Regions from separate parts of the Homo sapiens genome. Here all the other regions are reported to be linked to region 3. Evidence: microRNA targets listed by miRTarBase, many of them from high-throughput screens and not tested one by one. Region 3 holds a microRNA gene; each other region holds the end of a gene's coding sequence.
What was found. Region 3 holds the annotated microRNA hsa-miR-6507-5p (GAAGAAUAGGAGGGACUUUGU, at 4,240-4,260, shown strand). A microRNA usually pairs through its seed, bases 2 to 8, with sites in the 3' UTR of a target mRNA and lowers its output. Matches are read on the target gene's strand: a 7mer-m8 pairs with bases 2 to 8, a 7mer-A1 pairs with bases 2 to 7 and ends in A, and an 8mer does both.

Region 1 (7,121 bases), not on the chromosome of region 3:
TATAGGATTCTGTTAAAGCATGTTCCAGGTGGCTCTGACCTGGACCTTAAAGTCAAAGAAGATTTCTGTGCAGAAAAATGACATTTGACTGAAGCCTAAAGAAATTAGCCAGACATAGTGGGCAGTGGAAATCTTTATATGGATACTGTTAAGGATTGTGTCTTTGCAGACATTATATTATTTAATTCTTGCAGCAGCTCATTAAAGAAGTTCAGTTGGCCTGGCGCGGTGGCTCACGCCTGTAATCCCAGCACTTTGGGAGGCCGAGGCAGGCGGATCACGAGGTCAGGAGATCGAGACCATCCTGGCTAACATGGTGAAACCCCGTCTCTAGTAAAAATACAAAAAAATCAGCCGGGTGTGGTGGCGGGCGCCTGTAGTCCCAGCTACTCGGGAGGCTGAGGCAGGAGAATGGTGTAAACCCGGGAGGCAGAGCTTGCAGTGAGCCGAGATTGCGCCACTGAACTCCAGCCTGGGAGACAGCGAGACTCTGTCTCAAAAAAAAAAAAAAAAAAAAGAAATTCAGTTGAGTCAACTGATATTTAGAAGGACATAACAAATTATTCAAGAAGCTAAAGCTTAAGCCTAAGATATTCTAGAATCTAGTACTGTTTGTGCTATTTGAAACGTGTGAAGTTTGAAGTGGTCTTCTGTTACACCTGTTTTTTGTTTTTTTGTTGTTGTTGTTTTTGGTTTTTTGTTTGTTTGTTTTGCTTTGTTTTGTTTTGTTTTATTCTCTTTACAGTGCGGAAGGCAGTCATGTGTCAGGACAGAGCAACGGCCGGGATCCTCAGGCCTTGGCTAAGGCTGTGCAAATCCACCATGATACCCAGCACACGATGTATTTTGCCTGAGAGTCTCAGAAAAAGAACTCAACCAATTTGGCACCCCATGCAGCCTCAAAATGTTTCAAATGCCTACCGCCTCTAGATCGAGCCACGTTGACTTCAGGTGGTCTTCTACCAGCAGCTCGGAATAGTTGCACTGAATCTATACTTTGCAGCACTGTCTGATGCGTCAACAAAATTGAGCCATTTTTTTAAAGTAATAGATACTAATAGATTATCTTTTCTGATGCACTGGACTGAATTTTTACCTCAATGTGCAAAGGCTGATCAGCCTGAACTTTCTAAAGGACTTTACAAGAAGGGTTTCTATGGAATATTTTGCTAGCTGTGGTGTTCACCGCATCCCTCTAGTCTTAGAAGAGAAGATTATTCCTTTTTTCTGTAGTCATTGAGTGGGGTATATGCATAAGTGGGAGAGAAAAACCAAACAATCTACTTCAGTTCAGTGTAACTATTTAATTGTGTGGGTCCATAGACTTTTTAATGAAGATTTCTGACTTTGCCACTGTAAATGCCTTTAATGAGCATTAATTTTTGAAAGTTTTACAGAGTTTTATTAGTTTTACTACTTTATCTTATTGATCTCTGCAGACTTGTGCTGGTGCAAGTACATGCTGACAGGCAATTTGCACTATATTTGGCTGCAGATTCAAATAGGCAGTTCTCTTATTTGGTCGACTTTTGTGAATGTGTGACATAAACAGATGTAATGCATGTCACAGTGACGGAGATAACACTGCCATGATAAAAGTACTCATGTTTCCCCTATTTGGAAAAAAAAATTGCTTTTAGTATTTTTCCAAGTTTTCAAAAGTGCCCATTTTATGCTGCTGTGTGGTTTGTTAAATCTAAATGATTTTTAAACTTTTCTCATAGAAACTTAACTTTGGCAATAAACATTTTTTAAGGTCTCTCCTCTTCCTTCCCCAACAATGTAGTTTTCTAGATGAGATTTCAGTATGATTTTATCAGCTATTTCTTATATATCATAATCTGGCAATTTCTGAAACCAGTCAGAAAAGACATATATTTCCATGCCTTTTTAAAGAATTATTTTTACCTGTTTTATATTCACAGTTGGTGTCCTGTCACTTTGTTTTAAAATAAGCTAGAACCAGGATGCTTCCTTATTGGAAAGGCTTTGCCAGTCCTTAAGGTACAATGAGTGATGCTGCAACTTGCAAATGTACCAGCATTTAAAATTTCTTTTCCTGGGAATCAAGGTAACTCACACGACTACTTGCAGTACAAATTTTTTGCTTCTCTTTCGACATGAAATGTACTTGGTGGGTTTTCCTTCCTTTTATTAAACTAAAACTGTGTGGAAAAGGTTGATTTTTCTTAATAGATTCTGGATTCCACTCACAGGGAGATGGGATTCCTTTCTTGTCCAAACAAAGGGAGTTGCTCTAAAGCGAGCATCAGTTAAAATGTAGGGGAAAATGTATTCTGTATGTAGTGTAGATAATACTTTGTGAATGGACAACAGTTACATAGTGTCTTGGTAGCACCAGCCAGTGTTTCCCAGCCCAGAGTTTACTGACTTGTAATTCTCTATCCAGGACATCAGGAGTGAGGGATGGAAAAGGGGATAAAAGGCCTGGAGCCACACTCTATATGGCTGAGGAAGGAGCTAGGGAAAGAGATAGACACAATGGGGTGAAAACAATTTTGCCGCCCCTGCCTGGAAACTGCTGGTGGGGAAATGATGGTGAAGGGTGTTTGCTTGAACTCATGAGACGGTCCAAATCTCATAAACTAGCCTTCTCAAAATCCCAGCAATATAAAGCACTGTTTTTCTTCAGTCGTTTAAATAAACTTGTAAATACATTGAAGTTTACATTTCCATGTGCTGTTGATCAACGGCGCCACCTGTGTTTGCTGAGACTGGTCTCTGAGAGAGTTTTATGTCGATCGAGGCCTGTTGCTCATTAAGCTGAGTGCAGACGTCCTTAATCCCTGCAGATAGTGGGATGAAAGCAAGTTCTGTAAAATGAAGCACAACATAGCCAGGAGTGAAGAGATGGCAGATGTTAATTTCTTAAAATTTTCCTTTTTTTTTTTTTTTTTTGCAAATACCTCACTTGGATAATACAAATCAGGACATGTTGGTGAGGGGCTGGCTGCTTGGCTGCTGCTTTTATTCACACTTGTTCAGGGAGAGCACAGAGAATACCCTTCAGCATGGCCACTCTGGACCCAAGAGGAGGAAAAAACGGAAGCTTTTTTAGGAGAAGGAGGACTTGCTGGAATCCAAGATGTGAAGAACTCTTGGTGACTGGCTGGCTGGCCAGCGGGCACCACACCTGCACTTGAGTGCCTCGGGCTTGCTTATTAATAACGCACAGAAGAAGCATCACTTCTCACCATCTCCTGGCATGTATGGAGCAGGGAGCAAGGCTATGTTCCCGAAAGCCCTGATTAGCTTGTCTTGCTCTACGCTCGACCTCGAACAATACAGCTTGTAAGACCTCAGTCAGTCCTGGTACACTGGGGTAAATCAGTGTGGTGGTGGAAGAAAAGCCGGGAGGCCTATTTTTATAGGAAAATAGTACCATTAAAGGTGCAATGCTGTCATTTTGGACAAAAGGAAAGAAATTTGGAAGAGCTGGGATTATTGGCAAAAACTTGCTGAGGGGTGAATCTTTAGAGCTAATCACTGCAGAATCAGAGTTGCAGCAATATGATTGCAAGCAAGTCTGAATGCATAGTTTTACTTTAATTCGGCTTGACAATTTGAATAGGTAACCCCCTCGGGACTGACTGAATCGTTATGCATGTGTCAATCAATGGGAGGTGTGCATTCTCTAGAAGTAGTTTTAGGCTGTTTGGTTTGGTTTTGGTTTTGTTTTTTAAATGCAGCCTGTTGAGGCACTGTCATGTGGTGTGAAAGATTTAAATGTAGCAACGCTAAAGAGTAATAATTTGGGGATAAGAAGTGGGGACATTGGCCGGGCGCGGTGGCTCACGCCTGTAATTCCAGCACTTTGGGAGGCCTAGGTGGGCGGATCAGCTGAGGTCGAGAGTTCGAGGCCAGTCTGACCAACATGGTGAAACCCCATCTCTACTAAAAATACAGAAAATTAGCTGGGTCTGGTGGTGGATGCCTGTAATCCCAGCTACTCGGGAGGCTGAGGCAGGAGAATTGCTTGAACCCAGGAGGTGGACGGTGCAGTGAGCTATTACTCCAGCCTGGGCAACAAGAGCGAAACTCTGTCTCAAAAAAAAAAAGGGGGGGGGGGGACATTAAGAGAGTGGTGATGACCCAAATGTTGAACCAATTATGTTTTGGTGGTGGTGTTCTTAGCTGTTGAATCCTGAATGGTTTATAAAGTGAACTAGCTGGCTTAATGCAGCCAGCGTTCTGGGCAGCAGAACATATTCATTCTTACTGTAAATTCTATTTGCTGCTTCCAAAGGTGATGATTTTCAAGCAGACATGTTCTATATGGTCTGTGTTTTAGGATCTGGTGCCCAGCCTCTATCAGAGCTTGCCTACCTGGCAAAGCTGCCTACCCTTCAAGTGGGAAAATATAATCCACTGTTTAACAAGGCTCACCCTCTCCACCCTGTCCTAACGACCTTTTGTGAATGTGCTGTGATATTTTCTTGCTCAATAGCAAGGTGGTAGCTCTGCTTTCATTTTAAGAAAGTGGAGGCTGAGGGCATTGTATCAATACTGTTGCAACTCCAAGAAGTTTTCCTTGTAAAATTAAAGGAAAGATCTTGTTATTGATTAACCATTTTCTTATGCCTTGCTATTGACATATTCATGCTCTTTCTACGTCTAGTGGCTGAAAATGTTTGCATTTGTTCATTTGACTAATGGTGTGATTTTTGTTTCTATATTATTAGACCTGTAATGTTTTAAAATGTATTTTATTAAATTTGGACTGGATGTATGTCTCTAGCAATACGAGGTACTTTCTAAACTATTAAGGGAGGGGTTGTATCCTCATGTTGAGATAAGATGATGGTCGTTTAAATTTTGCAATTTTTTTTGGCCTGCAGGGATATTTTGTGTTTATGTGTCCAAAAAAGGAATAAATTGGCATTCTTGTGCCAAAAGTTGTTTTTCCTGTCAATTGTCTAATAAGTATGCAGTACACTGTAATGGCAACATACATGGTTGCTTTATAAAAACAGTTTCCTCAGTATGAGAAATTTTACAAAGAACAGTGGAAAAACTTTGTGTTTTTAACTCTTGGGTCTCCCTATTTTTAAAAATTGCTATTTGGTATACAATTATTATGTGTCAATTAAAACTAAAATAAAACTTTTAAAAAAGAAATTTCTATTTGAGAATTTTAGAAGAGCTTTTCAGCAACACTTCACTTATGAAAACTTTTACAAAATTGATCAGAGTTCTGGATATGGCTCTTAATGGGAAGATCTATTTAAGCAATGCTTGAGAAGAATCTGCAGTCTCCAGAGGGCAGTGTGGCCACACACTTTATAAGACTTAACTTCTCCAGAGGAGAAGCTGCTCAAATTCATCCAACCTGGGGCTATCCAGTCTCATCTTTAGAAAAATTCTCACCAGCAAGTCCTTTTGCTAAGTCATGGCAGGGACAATTCCTTAGGGAATTTATAGTTTGCCAGAGGAGAAAGTTCTGCATATAACTCTACTAGAAGGCGGTTGTTTTTTCCATCTGTATACTATCTCCACCATATTTATCAGTTATCAAACATTTATCATGAACTGGGTACATGCCATGTACTGCCTAGGTGCTGGGAACACAGAAGAGTAAAAAATTATTCAAAGAATTCATTCTAATTTGGCATGAGATGGAGGAAGAGGCAGCGAGATTAACACTGAGTGCCTACTATATGTCAGTCACTATATTTATTTATTTATTTATTTATTTATTTATTTATTTATTTATTTTTGAGACGGAGTCTTGCTCTGTCGCCCAGGTGCAGTGGCGCAATCTCGGCTCACTGCAAGCTCCTCCTCCTGGGTTCACGCCATTCTCCTGCTTCAGCCTCCCTGGTAGCTGGGACTACAGGGGCCCACCACCACGCCCGGCTAATTTTTTGTATTTTTAGTAGATTTGGGGTTTCACCGTGTTAGCCAGGGTGGTCTCAATTTCCTGACCTCATGATCCGCCCATCTTGGCGTCCCAAAGTGCTGGGATTATAGGCGTGAGCCACCATGCCCGGCCTATTTTTTTTATTTTATTATTATTTTTTAAACACAGGGTCTCACTCTGTCACCCAGGCTGGAGTGCAGTAGCACAATCATAGCTCCCTGCAGCCTTGACCTCCCAGGCTCAAGCAATCCTGCCACCTCAGCCTGCTGAGTAGCAGGGACTACAGGAGGTGCGCATCACCATGCCCTGCTAATTTTTGTATTTTTTTGTAGAGATGGTGTTTTGCCATGTTGCCCAGGCTGGTCTCAAACTCCTGAGCTCAAGCGATCCTCCCGCCTTGACCTCTCAAAATGCTGAGATTATAGCTGTGAGCCACCGCACCAGGTCTGTCAGTCACTTTCTATTGATATCTTTATCCCAGGAACAGAGTGTTGCTGGGCATTGTATCAATACTGCTTCAACTCCAAGAATTTTTCCTTGTAAAATTAAAGGAAAGATCTTGTTATTGATTAGTCATTTTATAGTCAGAAACCATGGGGTAGTTGGAAAATAGAAAAAAACAGTGTTGCTGGGATAAAGATATCAATAAAAAGTGACTGATAGGCTGGGTCAAATGCTTTCCCTTACTCCTTCTTTGGGAGATAGGATCCCTCTTTATTATAGAAAATTTGTTGTTGTTATTATTATTATTATTGAGATGGAATCTCACTCTGTCACCCAGGCTAGAGTGCAATGGCGAAATTTTGGCTCACTGCAACCTCCGCCTCCCCAGGTTCAAGCGATTCTCCTGTCTCAGCCTCCCAAGTGGCTGGGATTACAGGTGTGTGCCACCACACCCAGCTAATTTTTGTATTTTTAGTAGAGACGGGGTTTCACCATGTTGGCCAGGCTGGTCTCCAACTCCTGACCTCAGGTGATCCACCCACCTCAGTCTCCCTATGTGCTGGGATTACAGGCATGAGCCACCGCACCCAGCCAGAACCCTCATTATTTCGTATGATTCACGTGTGTCCAAATGGCCTTATTCCCACCTCACCCCCCACCACTTGTGTCATACTCATGTCCATCCCTGAATTTCTCGGGGATGTGTTACATCAGTCAGGAATGGCTTGTGGGCCCACTCCACCGTCCTAGGGGGACGGTGGCCAGTAAGTAGGGGAATGACAGACTGATCAGCACC
Region 2 (7,114 bases), not on the chromosome of region 3:
AACATAGTGAGACCTCATCTCTAATAAAAAAAAAAATTTTTTTTTTTAGATGAAGTTTCGCTCTGTAGCTCAGGCTAGAGTGCCATAGTGCAATCTGGGCTCATCGCAGCCTCAGCCTCCCGGGTTCAAGCGATTCTCCTCCTTCAGCCTCCCAAGTAGCTGGAATTACAGGCATGTGCCACTCCACCCGGCTAATTTTTTGTATTTTTAGTAGACACGGGGTTTCACCATGTTGGCCAGGCTGGTCTAGAACTCCAGACCTCTGGTAATCCGCCTGCCTCAGTCTCCCAAAGTGCTAAGATTAGAGGCATGAGTCACAGGGCCTGGCCTAAAATTTTTTAAAAATCATGACCAGGCGTGGTGGCTCACGCCTATAATCCTAGCACTTTGGGAGGCCGAGGTGGGCGGATCACATGAGGTCAGGAGTTCGAGACCAGCCTGGCCAACATAGCAAAACCCCGTGTCTACTAAAAATACAAAAATTAGCTAGGTATGGTGGTGCATGCCTGTAATCCCTGCTACTTGGGAGGCTGAGGCAGAAGAATCGCTTGAACCTAGGAGATGGAGGTTGCAGTGAGCTGAGAGCGCACCACTACACTCCAGCCTGGGCAACAGAGCGAGACTCCGTCTCCAAAAAAAAAAAAAAAAAAAATTAAAATTCAGCTGGATGTGGTGGCGGTTGCCTGTAGTCCCAGCTACTCAGGAAGCTGAGGTGGGAGGATTGTTGACTACAGCAGTTTGAGGCTGCAGTGAGCCATGACTATGCCACTGCACTCCTGCTTGGGCAACAGAGCAAGACCCCGTCTCAAAAAAAAAAAAAAAAAAAAATTAAAGAAAGGGACAATTTCTGAACACAGACATAGACAAATCAATGCCCTAGTCTGTTCTAGATTGAGGGGACAAGGAAGGGAGTTTGGAGAAATCTAGTGTTTTCCCTCTTCCTTTATCTTTTCTCTCCCCGTAATAGGATATGGATAAACTGGATGCCAGCAGTGATGAAGATCAGGATGGTAAATCCTCCAGTGAGGAGGAGGAAGAAAAGGCCCTTAGTGCGAAACACAAAGGCAAAATGCCCTTGAGAGGACCACTGCAGAGAAAACGAGCCTATGTGGAAATAGAATACGAGCAGGAGACAGAGCCCGTGGCCAAAGCCAAAACCACGTGATTTCCCTTTCAGCATTTATACCCAGGACTGAACATGCAGAACTGTTTTTTTTTTTTTTTTATCTTAAACACATACACACCTCCAGTTTTTGCTCTTTTGTGTTGTACTGAACACAATATTTGTGTTTTTATTATTTATGCCACGTCAGTGGGGCAAGAAATCTGGAGTGAGTGAAGAAAGCTAAGTTGTGAACAAGAGTGTTTTTATAGCATATGTGTTGAAGTAACAGCTTGTGCCCGAGAAACTTAACAGATGAGTTCTTGAATCTGGGATGAGATGACGGATGTAAATATTTCTAAATTTTAAATGCTACATTACTTGGTGTCCTTTTTTCTCCCAAACTTTATTTAGAAATGGAAGGAGTTCAATTTTTTCTTGTTCTACTTTCCCTATTCTTATGGAGGTAAAAGGAAAGGAAGGAAGGAAAAAGCAGCTTTCACTTACAAAGTTTCGTGTAAAAATATCTTTTTTTCTTAAATAACTCCATTCATACAAATTGGGATGGGAAGAAAATCCTTTCCTCTTGGGAAAGTAATACAAGTCTTAAGTTCCATTGTAGGGTGCGCCTTCAGAAACCTGCTGCACTTTTCTGATATAGTTCACCACTTTTCTGTCTTCACAGCTTTGGGGAATTTTGGCCAGGAGACCCTGAAACATGAAACCAAACAGGCTTTGATATTTTTTTTTTTTTAATTACTTTCCCCTTTTGCTTGATTCTTCTTCCTTGGTATCATATTCAAAGGAGGAAAGAATGGATGACACTTAGGGACAGGTCACTAAGCAGAATAGGTATTAGTTGGTTTTTTATTATTTTTAAATTTATATAGCTCTCATGTATTGAAGGTGCTACTTTAAAAACTGTGTTAATGTACTTGCAAATCTCCTGCTGGCTCATGAAACAGCAGAATTCCAGCCAAGGCAAATTCAGTTGGATCTAGGGCTTGAAAACTGCCCAAGATTAAAGAGCTAAGATGAAATAGTTTGAATAAACTGGTAAAATAACAATTCATACTATCTCTACATATTTTTAGGATATGAATTTTTTTTTCCTGCTGGGTAGATTGTCCAGTGACTTATGGCATGAATTTCTTTTCATGCTACCTTCAATCTTCAACTAAAGATTTCTAAAAGGGGTAAGAAATGAGGCAGTAGTTTATTAAATACATAGAAGTACACAGCTATTATATGCTGTGGCTTTGAGAAGTTAACTTTTGTGGAATATGAAACCAAAGGAAGAATTTCCATGTAGATAAATTAAGAATAGGGAAAAACATCTACCTAAAAGATGGTTGTCCCTAAAAAACTGGAAACATCTGAAATGCTCTATTTATGTTATTATTCCTGGGAGCTTATAGCCCATTATTTTTACTTTTTTTTTTTAATTCAGAAGACTAGAACAGAACTTAAATTTTACAAACTTTTGATCATAATGCTTTTGCCCATACTGTCTCGTCCTTAGCCCCAGTGACATGTGCTGATCCTCCTGCCTTTAGTTCTAAATGGTTCTGAATAGCTTTAAAAGATGAATAAGAAAAAAGATCAAGCTCTTTTGAGGCTAGAGGGCTCATATGGAGATCTAAAACCCTCCATGTTCATTTCCAGACTTGGTCAGGCACATACATAGTAAATTATAATCAATCATGGGAATTACATAAGGATAATGAGGCCCAACTGAAACCAAGTTTCAGTCTGCCTTACCTTTACCCGTCCTTGAGAACAGCGGTCCAGGAGAATCAGGCAGTCTGTGGCCTCCTGTAGCAGGGCGCTCTTAACAGACTCAGGTGTAAGGTTTGGATCCCTTGCTACATCACAAATCAGTTTCAAGAGGGCCTTCAGTAAGACCACAAGTCTGCAGGAAACTCTGGAATCAGGAAGAAAAGCTATGTTCATACTCTAAATCTGGATATTAAAATTGGAAGAGACTTCAAAGACTGTCAAGTGGAAAGCTATCATTTCCTAAATTAAGGAACTTAGGTCAAAGTTAAATGAAAAAGACCTAAAAACAGAACCAAAGACAGCCTCTAGATTTCTTACCCTCAAGTCTCCTGTTAGCATACTGCCTATACACACAGACACACCCTCTGCCACACTGCTCTCTTCCTTCCAGAAGCTTGGTTCTACTGTAAGCAACAGCTCCTTCATGGGCTGAGAAGGGGAAACCAGGATCTCCCCAACCAAGGGCCTATACTTTTATTTTTCAACTCTATTAACTGAACTATGCTTGGAGAGAGCCCTGAATCCTTTAACTTTAATGCCATCTTAGGCCTGGAAGTTAGAGTGAGGGAAATGAGCTTGGCTTCTGGGACTGTGTCAAGTTGAATTTTCTGTCATTTAATTTCAGATCCTAGCTCATCATCAGTGAAGTCCAGCCTACTTACTTGTAACTATTAACCTTTCTAAAAGTTTTCATCGCCTTGGTAAAGCTCCAGAAATGGACAATGCTAGTGACTGCACAATATTGTGACTGTACTTAATGCCACTGAACTGTACACTTTAAAATGGAAAATTTATATGTATTTTTACCACAATAAACAAAAAACCCTAAAAAAACTTTAATGAAAGGTGGAAAATAATTTAACTTACAATGTGAAAATACAATGTGAAATGTACAATAAATCATATTTATGGACAGATGCGTGACTGGGAGAAAAAAGTTTTCATCTCTATCTAAATACTCCTCATTTTCCTATGGTTTGGGTGCCTCTCAGCCCTCGTTATTCAACTTATAATCGGCTCTGTTTTCCATTTCCCATGCTTCACCCCCTCATACGCATACACACATATTCCTTTTCTACCTCCCTACATTTATTCACTCTCCCTTCTTGGAATCTTGGTCTCTGCTCTTTAAAGACCTGACAATCTGATTCGATTTTATTCATCCATTGATTCATTCTCTTCCAGTCCATTCATTCTTTGAATATTTGTATACCTAATACTAGGTACTGAACATACTTTGGGAGAATATAATAGATGTGGTTTTCCGTTATCCTGGAGATTATAATTCCGTAGGGAGAAAGATAGTAAACAAATGCAACCTAGTTACCAATATGACTAAGGGAAAGGTTGTCATGGGGAAATGTTACTCTGGATTCCTTGCACATTTATAAGGAAGTGAGAGAATACGGTGCAGAATAGCTACTGTATGTTGTTGGGGCACTAGATTCTCTGGCTGAATTCAATTTTCAGCTATGCAAGAGATGCTTCTGCTGACTCCACAGTTTGGGTTCCAGTTCCTGACACCTACCTCAAGCCAGAGTTGGAATGATTTCCAAGCAAGTATATCCTACATTAGTATGCTTTTTTTAAATTTTTATTATTTTTTTTTATATTTTGAGACAGAGTCTCGCTCCGTCACCCAGTCTGGAGTGCAGTGGTTCCATTGCACCTCACTGCAACCTCTGCCTCCTGGGTCCAAGTGATTCTACTGCTTCAGCCTCCTGAGTAGCTGGGACTACAGGTGCGCGCCACCATGCCCGGCTAAGTTTTGTATATTTAGTAAAGACGGGGTTTCACCATATTGGCCAGGCTGGTCTTGAACTCCTGACCTTAGGTGATCCACCAGCCTTGCCCTCCCAAAGTGCTGGGATTACAGGCGTGAGCCACCGCACCTGGCCTCTAGATTGGTATTCTGATCACTGCTCTGCAGATGTTAAATGATGTGCTATGAAGTACTCTATTCTCAATTAGATTTAAAGAACATTAGGATTAACAAAGTTAAGCAAATGTTTTATTGCAACACTTCTAAATGACCTTTAATCTTCTAATATGCATTCTAAATCTAGAGAGAGGTACAACCTGTATGGTTTCCCAACCTATTTGACCACAGAATTTTTTTTTTTTTCCTGTGGGGCATCAAAGAGTACCTAGATGGAGATTCTGCAAAACACCAATCTAAACCATTCTTAAGATATATAGCCAGGCACAGTGGCCCACGCCTATAATCCCAGCACTTTAGGAGGCTGAGGAGGGGAAATCACGAGGTCAGGAGTTCGAGACCAGCCTGGCCAACATGGTGAAACACCATCTCTACTAAAAATTTTTTAAAAATTAGCCAGGCATGGTGGAGGGCACCTGTAATCCCAGCTACTCAGGAGGCTAAGGCAGGAGAATCACTTGAATCCAGGAGGCAGAGGTTGCAGTGAGCTGAGATCGCGCCATTGCACTCCGGCCTGGGTGACAGAGCAATACTCCATCTCAAAAACAAAAACAAAAACAAAAGGCTGGGCATGGTGGCTCACGCCTGTAACCCCAGCACTTTGGGAGGCCAAGGCGGGTGGATTACAAGGTCAGGAGTTCAAGACCAGCCTGGCCAACATAGTGAAACCCCATCTCTACTGAAAATACAAAAAATTAGCCGGGCCTGGCGGTGGGCGCCTGTAATCCCAGCTACTTGGGAGACTGAGGTAGGAGAATCACTTGAACCCAGGAGGCAGAGGTTGCAGTGGGCAGAGATCGCGCCACTGGACTCCAGCCTGGGCGACAGTGTGAGACTCCATTTCAAAAAAAAAAAAAAAAAAAACAAAAAAGATATACTAGAGTTTCAAAGAGAAGCGATTTAACTGTCAGAATCTGGAACTGATACCTGGTAAAAGAGTCAACTATGAGCACCTCAAGTAACTATAGTATATTTTATCTTTCTAATGCCATTTTCTCAGTTTAAAATCCTATAGGTGTGTGAAAATGGGAGGTATTCAAATACATAGTATACATTTAATACTTTGTACTGAATGTATTAAATACATCCAAGCAAGTTCTCAAGAGAAAATCGGCTGAGTTTTGCACCTTAAGGCTGCTATTACCTGGGCCAAGTATGTTGCATGAGAAGTTTTAGGGTTTCCAATATCTTCAGTCTAGCTTCCTCCTCAGGTCCATCATAAACCTCCAGATAACCAATGATGACTCTCTCCAGCCTCTTTAAGTGCCGGACAGTTAGGATCCCCAACCTAAAGATGAAAGAGAAAATATGACGCCAGTGCAGTGGCTCATGCCTGTAATCCCAGTACTTTGGGAGGCTGAGGTGGGAGGATTGCTTGAGGCCAGGAGCTCGAGAGCAGCTCAAGCAACATAGCAAGATCCTGTCTGTATAAAATAATAATAAATAAAAGCCCAGGGCCTCACCTGTTCACGAAAGCCGGCAGGTTTCTTGCGTAGGTCCTGCGTAAAAGAAGGCGGTGCTCTGGCTCCATGTGGGTCAGGATCAGCCGCAGGACCTCATCACAATGGGTGGTGGGTCGAGCTCCATCTCCTTTCCAGTGCAGGGTTTTCTCCAGGATGGGGAATAAATCCAGCAGACACAGGAGCACAGCCTAGGAGGAAGGAATGGAAGGACGGTGCATAGTTCATCCATTTGCATTTACAATACTCACTGACTTCTCTAGAACTTCATTAATCTACCGTCCTTAGGGTCCATACCAGAGAATTCTAAGATACTAGTAATCATATATGAACTGCACATTACTTTACATTTTCAAACTTTTTTACATTCTTAATCTCCATCTGACAGTCTCAAATCAATACATTCTCCTCAGGACCATTCTTTGCTAATTTATAAAATCGGAAAAATGGCAGAGCTGGGACTTTAATCCAGATTTTAGGAATCTAAGTCTACTGTTACTATGTCACTAAGTCTAAGTGACTTAGTGATACATGATATTTACACATTTTTTTTTTTTTTTTTTTTTTTTTGTGAGACAGAGTCACTCTGTCACCTAGGCTGAAGGACAGTGGTGCAATCTTGGCTCACTGCAACCTCCGCTTCTCAGGCTCAAGCGATTCTCGTGCCTCAGCCACCTAACTAGTTGGGACTACAGGTGTGCACCACCACACTTGGCTAACTTTTCTATTTTTTAGTAGAGACAAAGTTTCACCATCCTGGCCTCAAGTGATCCACTCGCCTTGGCTTCCTAAAGTGCTAGGATTTATCCCTAGGCCAGGGGTATCCAATCTTTT
Region 3 (7,121 bases):
GTCCATGTGTTCTCATTGTTCAATTCCCACCTATGAGTGAGAATATGCGGTGTTTGGTTTTTTGTTCTTGCGATAGTTTACTGAGAATGATGATTTCCAATTTTATCCATGTCCCTACAAAGGACATGAACTCATCATTTTTATGGCTGCATAGTATTCCATGGTGTATATGTGCCACATTTTCTTAATCCAGTCTATCATTGTTGGACATTTGGGTTGGTTCCAAGTCTTTGCTATTGTGAATAATGCCGCAATAAACATACGTGTGCATGTGTCTTTATAGCAGCATGATTTATAGTCCTTTGGGTATATACCCAGTAATGGGATGGCTGGGTCAAATGGTATTTCTAGTTCTAGATCCCTGAGGAATCGCCACACTGACTTCTACAATGGTTGAACTAGTTTACAGTCCCACCAACAGTGTGAAAGTGTTCCTATTTCTTCACATCCTCTCCAGCACCTGTTGTTTCCTGACTTTTTAATGATTGCCATTCTAACTGGTGTGAGATGGTATCTCATTGTGGTTTTGATTTGCATTTCTCTGATGGCCAGTGATCGTGAGCATTTTTTCATGTGTTTTTTGGCTGCATAAATGTCTTCTTTTGAGAAGTGTCTGTTCATGTCCTTTGCCCACTTTTTGATGGGGTTGTTTGTTTTTTTCTTGTAAATTTGTTAGAGTTCATTGTAGATTCTGGATATTAGCCCTTTGTCAGATGAGTAGGTTGCGAAAATTTTCTCCCATTTTGTAGGTTGCCTGTTCACTCTGATGGTAGTTTCTTTTGCTGTGCAGAAGCTCTTGAGTTTAATTAGATCCCATTTGTCAATTTTGGCTTTTGTTGCCATTGCTTTTGGTGTTTTAGACATGAAGTCCTTGCCCATGCCTATGTCCTGAATGGTAATGCCTAGATTTTCTTCTAGGGTTTTTATGGTTTTAGGTCTAATGTTTAAGTCTTTAATCCATCTTGAATTGATTTTTGTATAAGGCGTAAGGAAGGGATCCAGTTTCAGCTTTCTACATATGGCTAGCCAGTTTTCCCAGCACCATTTATTAAATAGGGAATCCTTTCCCGATTGCTTGTTTTTCTCAGGTTTGTCAAAGATCAGATAGCTGTAGATATGTGGCATTATTTCTGAGGGCTCTATTCTGTTCCATTGATCTATATCTCTGTTTTGGTACCAGTAGCATGCTGTTTTGGTTACTGTAGCCTTGTAGTATAGTTTGAAGTCAGGTAGCATGATGCCTCCAGCTTTGTTCTTTTGGCTTAGGATTGCCTTGGTGATGCGGACTCTTTTTTGGTTCCATATGAACTTTAAAGTAGTTTTTTCCAATTCTGTGAAGAAAGTCATTGGTAGCTTGATGGGGATGGCATTGAATCTATAAATTACCTTGGGCAGTATGGCCATTTTCACGATATTGATTCTTCCTACCCATGAGCATGGAATGTTCTTCCATTTGTTTGTATCCTCTTTTATTTCCTTGAGCAGTGGTTTAAATATATATGCACCCAATACAGGAGCACCCAGATTCATAAAGCAAGTCCTGAGTGACCTACAAAGAGGCTTAGACTCCCACACATTAATAATGGGAGACTGTAACACCCCACTGTCAACATTAGACAGATCAACGAGACAGAAAGTCAACAAGGATACCCAGGAATTGAACTCAGCTCTGCACCAAGCAGACCTAATAGACATCTACAGAGCTCTCCACCCCAAATCAACAGAATATACATTTTTTTCAGCACCACGCCTATTCCAAAATTGGCCACATACTTGGAAGTAAAGCTCTCCTCAGCAAATGTAAAAGAACAGAAATTATAACAAACTGTCTCTCAGACCCCAGTGCAATCGAACTAGAACTCAGGATTAAGAATCTCACTCAAAACCGCTCAACTACATAGAGACTGAACAACCTGCTCCTGAGTGACTACTGGGTACATAACGAAATGAAGGTAGAAATAAAGATGTTCCTTTTCTTTTAATTTACAGTTTGGGAGCAGACTTTTCCTGGCATGGGAAAAATAAGGATAAGTAAGGGACAAGATGTATCACAACTTTTAATTTAATGTGTCCTAATCACTGCCTTTTAAAATTTTTTTACCTTGTGGGCTTGGTGGGAAAAGTATGTCTCATGCTTATTTATTGGTGCCTTGAAGACAGGTTGATATTTGAGCATTGTTTTCAATGCTGGAGAGAGAGTGATTAGAAGGGAAGACAATAAAAAGGTATTTAGGCAGACAGGTTGGTGACAGTTTAAGGGGACCAAACTTTTTCTACTACCCAAAAAGCTAATATGAAGCATGCCTCCTTTTTCTCATGCTTTATTTAGTGCTTGCTTATCATGAAGGAGACTAAATTAGATCTGTTTCCAAGAGTGGGTAATCCTAGCTGTATTGTACCATTACCTTCCCTCAGTTGAGCTCTGTAAATTCTGTTTCACTACCATCTGGTTATATTTAATATTAATTTTGTCTCCTACTTGTAATTCTTATGTAGACCTTTCCTTCATTCCTATTGACCTTCAGACCTCCTCCCACTGGTTCAGCACCAATTTAAAAAATAAAACTTAAAAATGATGTATTTTCCAATAGCACGCATTTGTGGCTTTATAAATTCATTCAATAAGTTACTATGGCCATACAAAAAGCATGCCCTTTTGAGGTTCACTTTCTACCAGGGGGATATAGATAATAAAGAATGTATATTCAGTATTTTAAAAGGCAATGACACCTACTTCTACTGCCAAAAAGACAGAGTAAATATACTTTCCCCTATTCCTCCTATTAAGGGTAACTAAAAACTCTAAATATTATATATAAAAAACATGTAAGAAGACTCAGAGGTTGAAAAGAAGTCAGCCAAGAACCCAAGGAACAACATGATGGTGAGTTCCCTGGGTTTTCTTCTTGTCTTTAATATCCCAAACTTGGCGCTGAAGAAGCTGGAAACCTGGAAATCTCAATGAATACAAACACAAAAGACCCCAACAAAAGCCAGTTTTCTCTAGCCAAGGAGAACAATAAAGGACCAATCTAGCAAGACAGAAAGGTTTTACACAATAACCACTCCACCCTAGCCAAATGTCATAAAAAATTTGTGTCCTATTTCTCACACAAACAAAGGCTGAGTAGGGAGCCTGGACTTACCCTCATGAAACTCTAATGTGCTCCTGCAACATCCTTGCCAGGATGGTGTCCAAGTAGAGAGCCTGCACTTCATCCCCATTGGTTGATATTGAGGGAACACCCTCCCACTTCACTGCAGTATTAGTTGAGACTCTGGAGATGTGGAACTTACCCACCTGCTCAGCAATAATGAGGAGCCTCCCTTTGGTGTGAATGAAGGCTGAATGGGCAACCTGGACTTTGACATCCACCTGGCAGAAACAAAGCAGTGCCCTCACTTATACCCTGCCAGAGCAGTGTCAAAAAAAAAAAAGCCAATTAAAATAAAAGGTTTAAATAAGATCTAGGGAGGTGGAGCAAGATGGTTGGGATAGAAGCCTTCACTGTTTGTCCCTCTGGCTTGAACACCAAATCTTAACAACTATCTGTACACAGAAAAGCCCCATCACAAAAACCAACAATCAAGTGTGCAATCACAGTACTTGGATTTAACGTCATATTCACAGTACTTGGATTTAACGACAGAGGCATTGAGGAGGGCAGAAGAGATACTTTAGAATCACTGACACCACCTCACCTCCATCCCCTAGCAGTGGCCATGCAGTGCAGAGAGAGAACTTGAGCACTTTGGGGAGGGAGAGCACAGCTGCTGGGCGACTTTACATTGAACTCAGTGCTGCCCTGTTACAGTGGAGAATAAAGCTGTATTGAGCTCAGCCATTGCCTGTGCACAATGGGAGCATCTGGACCAGCCCTAGCCAGAGGGGGGTCACCCATCCCAGTGGTCCAAACTTGAGTTTCTGTGCAAACCTCACCACTTAGGGCTAAAGTGCTCTGGGGTCCTAGGTAAACTTGAAAGACAGTCTAGGACACAAAGACTGCAATTCCTAGGCAACTCCTAGTGCTAGGCTGGGCTTCAAGCCAGTGAACTAGGAGTGGAACATGACCTAGGGAGACACCAGCTGGCACAGCTATGGGAGAGTAAAGAGAAGTCATCCCTCCCCCAAACCCAGGATTGCAGCTTGTAGCAATGGAAGTGACTGTTTCTTTCCGTTTAAGGAGAGGAGATCAAAGTTAAAGGGTACTTTGTCTTACATCTTGTGGAAAGGGGAGGGAAGAATAGGAGGGACTTTGTATTGTGGTTCAGTACCATGCAAAGTCCTTCCTATTTTTCCCTCCACTTTACTTCCTTTCCCTCAACTTAGCTTCCGTAGAATAGAACATCACATAAGTTTCTAAGGTTTTTGACTCCAACTTCTGGCTCCCAGACAGCATCTCTGGACACACCTGGAGCCTACAAGAACTCACTACCCTGACGGGAAGGGCCTTGGGCAAGGCCCATTGCTGTGCTGGCTTTGGGTCTGACCCAGCACAGTCCCAGTGGTGGTGGCCACAGGGGTGATTGCATCACTACACCCCCCAGTTCCAGGTGGTTCGGCACAGAGAGAGAGAGACTCCATGTGTTTTGGGGAAAGTAAGGGAAAAGAACAAGGGTTTCTGCCTGGTAATCCAGAGCATTCTTCTGGATCTTACCCACAACCACCACAGCAGTACCTCTATGAGTGTACAAAACCCACCGTATTATTGGGCTTGGGGCCCAAGTCCCTTTGAATACCTAGAAAACCTTCCCAAGAAAGACAGGCACAAATAAGCCCAGACTGTGAAGACCACAATAAATACATAACTCTTTAATGCCCAGATGCCAAAGAACTTCTACAAGTGCCAACATCATTCAGGAAAACATTACTTCACCAAATGAACTAAATGAGGTACCAGGGATCAATCCCAGAGAGATAGATATATATGACGTTTCAGACAGAGAATTCAAAATAGCTGTTTTGACGAAACTCAAAGAAACTTAAGATAACACAGAGAAGGAATTCAATATTTTATCAGGTAAATTTAACAAAGAGATTGAAATAATTAAATAGAATCAATCAGAAATTCTAGAATTGAAAACTGTAGTTGACATGCTGAAGAATTTATCAGAGTCTCTTAATAGCAGAATTGATCAAGCAGAAGAAAGAATTAGTGAGCCTAGAGACAGGCTATTTGAAAATACACAGTCAGAGGAGACAAAAGGGAAAAAGAATAAAAAAGAATGAAGCATGCCTACAAGATTTAGAAAGTAGCCTGAAAAGGACAAATCTAAGAGTTATTGGCTTTAAAGAGGAGGTAGAGAAAGAGATAGGGATAGAAAGTTTATTCAAAGGGATAGTATCAGAGAATTTCCCAAACCTAGAGAAAGATATCAACATTCAAGTAGAAGAAGTTATAGAACACCAGGCAGATTTAACCTAAAGAAGACTACCCCAAGGCATTTAATAATCAAACTCCCAGTGGCCAAGGATAAAGAAAGATTCTAAAAGCAGCAAGAGAAAAGAAACAACACACAGTGGAGCTCCAATAGGTCTGGCAGCAGACTTTTCAGTGCAAACCTTACAGGTCAGGAGAGAGTGGCATGAGATATTTAAAGTGCTGAAAGAATAAAACTCTTATCTTAGATTAGTATATCTTGAGAAAATATCCTTTAAGCCTGAAGGAGAAATAAAGACATTCTCAGACAAATAAAACCTGAGGGATTTCAATACCATACCTATCCTATAAGAAAGGCTAGAGAGAGTTCTTCAATCTGAAAGAAAATGATGTTATTGAGCAACAAGATATCATCTGAAGATATAAAACTCATTATTACCATAGTAAGCACACAGAAAAACACAGAATAGTATAACTTTGTAGTTGTGATGTATAAACTTATCTTGACTAAAGTAGAAAGAATAAACGATGAACCAATCAAAGATAACAGCTACAACAACTTTTCAAGACATAGACAGTACAATAAGACATAAAGAGAAACAACAAGAAGTTAAAAAGCCAGGGCACTAAGTTAACATGTGGAGTTTTTTTAGTTTTCTTTTTCCGTGTTTGTTTGGAATGGTGCCAGCAAGGCCCCTACTGTCTCTGCTGCTGGCCATACTTGAAGTATATTATACCATGTATTTATGGATTCTGAGTACTAGATATCAGATCACCCCAATTGGTGCCCATGAAAGCTGGATACCTTCACCATCAGCCTTGCCAGAAAATTAATTCCACGTATACAGGGCCATGTTCTTCATTTTTTTCTGTTTACAATTCAAATCTCATATGGTTGTTTCTGACTGGTCAAGCATGCGTTACCTTCCAATGCATTAGCTGAAAGGGAATCTGAGAAATTGAGTTCTCCCTCGTATCTTCATGAAATGAGACTCATAATATGCAAGCTACCCCAGGACAGAAAGAGTGTTCAAAAGATGCTAGGTACCCCAAAATGACAAACATCCATAACAGTGTCTTGGTCTTTTATAGAACTTTGTCATTTCCCAGTCCAGCTCCCCTGAAGGGCACTATCCAATTTGGTAACCACTCTCCACATGGACATACTGAGCACTTGAAATGTGGCAAGTCCAAATTGAGGTGTGCTGCAAGTATAAAATACACATGGGATTTTGAAAACAGTATAAAATATTAAAAATCACATTAATAATTTTATACTGATTACATGTTAAAAGAATGTTTTAGATATATTGGTAATTAAATCATTTCTATTAACTAAAACTGATTTTATCTGTTAATTTTTTCTTCTTGTGGTTAGTAGAAAATTTAAAATTTTAAATGTAACTTGCATTTGTGACTTACATTGTAATTCTGTTGGACATCACAGGTCTAGAGTGCAGATCTGAGACTTAGCCCTTTCCTTACAGCTAATCACTTGCATGCAGCACACCAGTCTCTCCCCATGAATTGGCACCTACTTATTTATAGTTACTAACCCTTACTTTAAAAGAGAAACAAGAGTGTAGGTGACAGAACTCCATGAAAGATATTCACCTAATAAGCTTCTCCTGCACCTGTGGGAAGAAATCTGTGACTGCATTGATTTCAGAAAATGTCCTCATGGAGCACTGGCCTCAGCTGCTGGGGAATATGAAAGGAGAAGGTCTGCTGATAAGTGAT
Region 4 (7,121 bases), not on the chromosome of region 3:
ACAGGCGTAAGCCACCACGCCTGGCCTAAAGTGATTATTTAAATGGAAAATCTAAGAGTTCCTCCCCCTAACTTTGTGAAAATTTTCAAAAATACACAAAAGTTGAAAAACCAGTGATCTACTTAGATCTAACAGTGAACAATTTGTTACACCCGCTCTTTATGTGTTTATCAAATTGTTGAACTATTTAAAAGTAAGCTGCAGACATCCAGATGCTTCATCCTTAAATACTTTAGCACTTATCTCCTAAGAATATTCTTCTATGTAATGGCAATTCCACCATTATACCTAATAAAATTAACAATAAATTCATATTCAATCCATATCCTAATTTCTCATTATTCCAGCCTTTTAAACAAAGATCCAATCAGAGTTCAAGCCCTTTTACTGATTATCATCTCTTCAGTCTCCTTTGTGTTTCATTACCTAGTAGATTGTCATATTGATTTCAAGTAAATTAAACTTTCTGAACAAAAATATCAAGAAATCAAAAAATGTAACTGGCCAGGCAGGGTAGCTCATACCTATACTCCCAGCACTTTGGGAAGCCAAGGTGGGAGGATCACTTGAGCTCAGGGGTTTGAGACCAGCCTGGGAAACATAGTGTGATCCCATCTCTGCAAAAAAAAATTTAAAAAATTTTTTAAAAAATTAGCTGAGTGGGAGGGTGGTGGGTGGGGGCAGGGCTATTCAGGAGGCTGAGGCAGGAGGATTACTTGAGTCCAGGAGGTCAAAACTATAGAAAGCCATGTGCACCACTGCACCCCAGCCTGGGCAACATGGTGAGACCCTGTCTGAAAACAAAAAACAAAAAATGGTAACTCCTATATACCATGTTATTTGGATAACTATCGGTTTTTTATCTGTTACAATCAGCTTGAGAGATACCATGAGACTAGAATAAAAGGTGCTGGAAATGGGACAGTACTTGCAGTTATCATCCTGCTTCATTCATTTCAGTCTTTTTTGTAATGGACATTTCTGTTGCTCCCTCCCTTCTTGCCACTCCCAGCTGAATCCTACCTGTCACAATACTTTATGCCAGAAAGAGCCTTTCACTTAGAATCAAAAAGGTGTCGGCTGACTCTGTCCTATTAGTCACTCAGCATGCCTCAGCTTCCTACTCCGAAAAACGGGCATGATGGTGATAGAATATGGTCCCTTCGAGTAACCACAGGATTGCTATACAAATCAAATGAGATCGTGTGAGTTAATTTATGTTGGAAAACATGAGGCACTTCATTCATTCATTCCACATTCATCGGGCATCGTCTATGTAGGTCTCTGTGCCAGGGACAGAGATGTGAGAAAAAGGTTGCGAGAGGTTCTGGGAAAAGTTGCCTTGCTCTTAAGAGACACAAGATGAAATGGTTTCTCTTCATATGGATATAGGGCTCAGATGCTAGTCCAAGATATGGAGCTGGCATGCAACTCAATCACACGAGCTGCTAAGGTCCCTTCAGAGTTTAAGCCCATTTGAATGTATTTTCTTTTACAGGTAGCCAACAGCATCCAGAGACAGGTGTGAACAGCATTTGAGACTTGAAGAATCAGTCTCCCAAAGGAGCATCAGAGCAGATTTTGATGCTGGCACCAGCCTTTGACTTCTGCTTGGCTGGCCCCATCTCTTAGATCCCTGCTTGACTGACAGCCCAATTCTGTGAGTCTCAAAGCCTTGCTTCAGCCAATGCTGGCCATTAGCTTGTTCTGATCCCCAGATATGCCTGCAGACCCCAAACCTCTAACACCCTAATGTTTCTGCTGCTACCTGGAGAACATGCCAGTGTGCTGCCTGCTGACCCTAGAGCCCCCAAGGCCCCACTCATGCATGGCCCCAGTACTACTCTGCTGACAGACCCCTGCCTGCTCTCCCCTACTCGGCCTCTGCCCAGGGAAACCCTGTTCTCTCAGCTCTCTAACCTTTCCTAACTCCCCTGAGGGAGAAAATGCTTTTTCAAATAACAGGCAGTACAAAGAAAAATACTGAGAAAGGGCAACTTCATATTGCCTTATTTATATCCCAGGAAATTTTAATTATCAACAGTCAAGATATAATAAAATCGTGATGTAGGCTGGGCGCAGTGGCATACACCTGTAGTCCCAGCACTCTAGGAGGCTGATGCAGGCAGATCGCTGGGGCTCAGGAGTTGGAGATCAGCTTTGCCAACACAATGAAACCCTGTCTCTACTAAAACTAGTCAGGCATGGTGGTACACACCTGTCGTCCCAGCTACTCAGGGGCCTGAGGTGAAAAGATCGCCTGAGCCCAGGATGTTGAGGCTGTAGTGAGCCGAGATTGCGCCACTGCACGCCAGCCTGGGCAACACAGTGAGACCCTGTCTTAAAAAAAAAAAAAAAAAAAAAAGAAAGAAAAACAAAAAACAAACCCCATAGCATTTATTTGAAAAAACTTAAAGGTAGATAACCATTACCTAAAAACCATTTTTGAAAGAAAATCATTATTACATCAAATAGCTTCTGCTTTTTCAGATACAAAACAGACAAGAATGTGTTTCAAACTATTTAAGTCAGTACAGCATGTGGTAGTGAACTAATTCTGGACGTTCCTGGCTGTGCTTGCTGGTCTTGCGTTGGCGGCAGGCACTCAACTAGCCCAGGGCAGCAGCTAATTTACCACTTGAAGGGACATGTTTCAATGGTTTCACAAGTGGGATAGCCGTAAAAGCTGAACATCCACATTAGGCATGTGGGTTTTTTTTTAAAAATATGTAATATTTACTTAGATTTTTAAAGCTAAAAAATCCATAAATGGGCTGGATGTGGTGGCTCATGTCTGTAATCTCAGCACCTTGGGAGGCTGAGGTGGGAGAATTGCTTGAGCCCAGGAGTTGTAGACCAGCCTGGGCAATAAAGCAAGACTCCATCTCTACAATTTTTTTTTTTTTTTTTTTTTTTTGAGATGGGAGTTTTACTCTTGTCGCCCAGGCTGGGGTGCAGTGGCACCATCTCGGCTCACTGCAACCCCTCCAGGGTTCAAGTGATTCTCCTGCCTCAGTCTCTGGAGTAGCTGGGATTACAGGCATGTGCCACCATGCCCGGTAATTTTGTTTTGTTTTTTGAGATGAAGTCTCACACTGTTGCCCAGACTGGAGTGCGATCTCGGCTCACTGCAGCCTCTGCCTCCCGGGTTCAAACGATTCTCGTGCCTTAAGCCTCCCGAATAGCTGAGACTACAGGTGTGTGCTACCATACCTGGCTAATTTTTTTTTTTTTTCAGTAGAGATGGGGTTTCACCATGTTGGCCAGGCTGGTCTTGAACTCCTGACCTCAAGTGATCTGCCTGCCTCGGCCTCCCAAAATGCTGAGATTACAGGCATGAGTCACCATATCCGGCCTCTACACATTTTTTTTTTTTAATTAGCTGGGCATGGTGGTACGTGCCTATAATCCCAGCTCCTTGGGAGGGTGAAGTGGGAAGATCACTTGTGCCCAGGACATTGAGGTTGCAGTGAGCTAAGATCATGCCACTGTGCTCTAGCTTGGTGACACAGGAAGACCTTACATTAAAAAAAAAAAAAAAAAAAAAAAAAAAACCTATGAACATTTAACAATTATAATCAGCATTTATTCGGAAAAACTTAAATGATGTACATAATCATTACCTAAAAACCATTTTGAAAGAATTTACGACATCAAATGGCAAAAGTGTTTGTGGAAATTGTAATGCATACTGGGCGATGGCTCAAAAGGCCAATGTTGAAAGCTATCACTAAAAATAGATGCTTAAAATGTAACATGGAGGGGAAAGAGGGAACTTGGAAAAGATAAAGGTATATTGGTTTTAGGTCTAATAATCACAGGTAAGAAAGTCTTTGTTTAAAAAACAAGCCTGGGCCGGGCGCGGTGGCTCACGCCTGTAATCCCAGCACTTTGGGAGGCCGAGGCGGGTGGATCATGAGGTCAGGAGATCGAGACCATCCTGGCTAACAAGGTGAAACCCCGTCTCTACTAAAAAAAAATACAAAAAATTAGCCGGGCGCGGTGGCGGGCGCCTGTAGTCCCAGCTACTCGGGAGGCTGAGGCAGGAGAATGGCGTGAACCCGGGAAGCGGAGCTTGCAGTGAGCCGAGATTGCGCCACTGCAGTCCGCAGTCCGGCCTGGGCGACAGAGCGAGACTCCGTCTCAAAAAAAAAAAAAACAAAAAAAAAAACAAAAAAAAAACAAAAAACAAAAAAAAAAAAAAAAAAAACAAGCCTGGCAGGGGTAGGGCAGGGAGGGGTTGCTCATGCCTTATACTCCCAGCACTTTGGGAGGCCGAGGCGGGCCTATCACCTGAGGCCAGCAGTTCAAGACCAGCCTGGGCAACACGGCGAAACCCCGTCTCTACTAAAAATACAAAAATTAGCCGGACGTGGTGGTGCACGTCTATAATCCCAGCTACTCGGGAGGCTGAGGCAGAAGAATTGCTTGAACCCAGGAGGCGGAAGTTGCAGTGAGCTGAGATTGCACCATTGCACTCCAGCCTGGGCAACAAGAGTGAAACTCCGTCTCAAAAAAATAAAAAACATACCTATTTAAGGAGGCTTTTTTCCTTAGTTTTAGTTGGTGTTGATAAGCTCAGCAAAGGAGCTTTAGGGTAATACTTGATGACAGCAAAATGAAGGAAACCTTACTGAAGGTAAAAACTTAGCAAAACACTCCCCAGAGGGACAAAAGTTTTTTGCAAATACAATATACTTACTTATGCTTTCTACCAGTCACCAACACAGAAAGACCAAAAATTGTGTATGAGAAAGTGATATTAAGATTTGAGATTTTATTCTAATTCAGTGGCATCAATCATGTAAAGAGCCATGCGGTTGAAGTGGTCCGCTGTGGCACGCAGCCCCACAGTGATGGTGCGCTTTATGCCCTGTTCATGTTGGGGCAGCCTATACCATCTAGAAACCACAGCTGCAGTAACCATTGATATATAGACCTGTGTTACTTCTACAAGTGTTCCATTCCAACTGTACATATGCTTTAGAGTTCAAAATCTAAGTCCAGATATACTATTATAATGGGCCAGGTCCCAGACATTCTTCCTCACACCAACCAGCTAGTCCTTTTGATCTTACTCCGAACCCCAATGTACGAAATCTGAAGTGCTTGTAAGGATTTAGAACAGCACAGACTACCCGGAACAAAGGAGATACAAAACATTTCTTAGCAACCAAAAATAAAAGGGAAATGGGCCACTGAGGCAGATGGGTCTCTCAGATTAAATGCCATATAAATTGCATGTGTGGAACCAAATACAGCAGAAAACCCTCAGTTAATGAGGCATAGCTTGGTAAATTGGGAACTTGATGAGGGTTTTTAACGTAATCTGGTATCACTTAGAATGGCCTTAGTTTCCCATTCTCTCAGCACCTTCACAGAGGCCCACATGCCTCTGACATCAAATCTGTCAAACTTGGGGACAAAGGACATTAACAGTTCTTGAAAGGTGACCTTAGTTAATGATACCCACAGATACTAATTTCATTACTTAAGGAATCTGTGTTCCTCAGAATTTCCAGAATCACAAGTGATACCTGCCAATTACAGTTTAAGTTACTAACGGATATACAACTCTTCAAGGCAGAAACTTAAGTCTCATTATGTTGGTTACATATACTGTTTTTATTTGGGTTTGTTGAATGAGAATAAAAACACCCCAGTTTCTTCTGCAGGTCGAGCCCTTCTCTATAACGGTCATTACAAACAACCCTGAAGTGGCTGGAATATAGTCAGCAAGGGGCCCACATGAACAGCTCATCTGGAATCTTTGCAAGTACGTATTTATGTCCTTTGGTGCCTTGCACAGTAAGGCACTGTTAATGACGTAACAGAATAGAGGAAATGCCCACAGCAAATAGTTCTAGTGACAATTTACTAGACAAGTTACAGTTTAATAATGGTGGTGGTGATTGTTTCTTTCATTTTATTATTATTATTTTTTTACAATAAGGGTGTAGCCTTTATACTCCACACACACAAAATAAAACAAGTGCTTATTACGAAAAGAGTCCCTGCCCCCACCCCCTAGAACATCCTGAACATAGCAATTCAACAGAACAGAAAAATCAAGACGTTTGATTTCAAAATTTCAATAAAAAAGCAAAAGTATGTAATGCAACAGCTGTTCAACTTCCAACTCTAAATAGGCACCATTAAACAAAAAACCCCAGTATTTTAAATTTCTCCAGCACACATTCCAGGATCAATGCTCTGAACTGTAATCAGCTAGTAATTCATAACGGGAATACAGCCTTAGAATGGAAGCTATATTGCTTCCCTGCCCCCTTTCTCTTACAATTGGAGAGTGTAGGTATTAAGGGATACAAAGTCAGAGGAAGAATAATTAAAAAGAAAAATGCCCAAAGCTGCAGCTGTTTGGACTAGGAAGACAGCATTTTACAAACGTTCAAAAAATCCCAAGGCAAGTAACACAATTTGTTCACTAGCACTCTTACTTGAAAGAATAAAGAGATCAGCATCTTATTATATAAAACTGTACTTTCAGAACTGTATTACAGGTTCACCAGAAACTATGGATGTAGTTTTAGGCATCATCAAGGAAAACAGGTTCAGTTCAGATCAAGTTAGATACTGTACATCTAGCCTAGCTGGATCTGGTGTCTGGATCTGCTCACTGTCACCCTGAACAGCTGTGAACTAAACAATAGTACGTAACTCCGTAGGAAGCTTAAGGACTGAAGAAATGTACACAGCTAGTTAGATCTCCCCTGCTTCGCGCTCTTCAGAGCTCCTCCTGTCTTCTGATCTGCCATTAGCACTCTCATAGGACCGCTTCTTATCTTTCCGATCTCTGTCACGAGGTGATCTGTCTCTTGAACTCCTGTCTCTGTCACATGATGCTAAGTCTTGGTCTCTGAATCTTTCTTTTGAGGATCTGAAAAATATTAATTTGAGGAGCAAAATATGTTGGGAAACCCAAAAACCCAAATTAAAGAATAGGATAAATATTAAGCTCTTGATAGCTGAAGATATATAGACGAATATACCCATGACAGAGGAGTCAGTTTTCTGACAAATTACAGAGCACTACCATAGTTGATAAGGGCATTAAAACAAGAAGATGGGTGAAAAACAAATAGCAGAGGGTCAGAAGGCTA

Region 1: the mRNA of AGO4 is a reported target of hsa-miR-6507-5p. Seed matches in the 3' UTR shown: 7mer-A1 at 4,233-4,239.
Region 2: miRTarBase lists MAK16 as a target of hsa-miR-6507-5p. Seed matches in the 3' UTR shown: 8mer at 1,556-1,563.
Region 4: the mRNA of LUC7L2 is a reported target of hsa-miR-6507-5p. Seed matches in the 3' UTR shown: 7mer-m8 at 6,463-6,469 and 7mer-m8 at 6,339-6,345.

The regions. Positions count from the first base shown.
Region 1 is chr1:35,852,752-35,859,872 of GRCh38, forward strand. It overlaps AGO4 (argonaute RISC component 4), which reads left to right. Exons shown (of 18, transcript NM_017629.4): 18 at 746-5,139. The coding sequence ends at 854. Among named protein-coding and RNA genes, the nearest start is that of AGO1, 27 kb to the right of the region's middle.
Region 2 is chr8:33,497,465-33,504,578 of GRCh38, forward strand. It overlaps MAK16 (MAK16 homolog), which reads left to right. Exons shown (of 10, transcript NM_032509.4): 10 at 968-3,798. The coding sequence ends at 1,165. TTI2 (TELO2 interacting protein 2) reads right to left here. Exons shown (of 8, transcript NM_001102401.4): 5 at 6,284-6,471; 6 at 5,965-6,108; 7 at 2,864-3,026; 8 at 1,258-1,813. The coding sequence ends at 1,709. Among named protein-coding and RNA genes, the nearest start is that of TTI2, 12 kb to the right of the region's middle.
Region 3 is chr10:98,921,682-98,928,802 of GRCh38, reverse strand. It overlaps MIR6507 (microRNA 6507), which reads left to right and starts at 4,235; the gene lies at 4,235-4,304. The region is part of intron 3 of HPSE2 (heparanase 2 (inactive)); the gene reads left to right.
Region 4 is chr7:139,421,940-139,429,060 of GRCh38, reverse strand. It overlaps LUC7L2 (LUC7 like 2, pre-mRNA splicing factor), which reads right to left. Exons shown (of 10, transcript NM_016019.5): 10 at 5,607-6,898. The coding sequence ends at 6,721. FMC1-LUC7L2 (FMC1-LUC7L2 readthrough) reads right to left here. Exons shown (of 11, transcript NM_001244584.3): 11 at 5,607-6,898. The coding sequence ends at 6,721. It overlaps LOC100129148 (a long non-coding RNA gene), which reads left to right and starts at 1,535. Exons shown (of 3, transcript NR_033999.1): 1 at 1,535-1,660; 2 at 5,676-5,776. It also overlaps a transcript of KLRG2 not described here. RefSeq lists an enhancer at 1,657-2,293.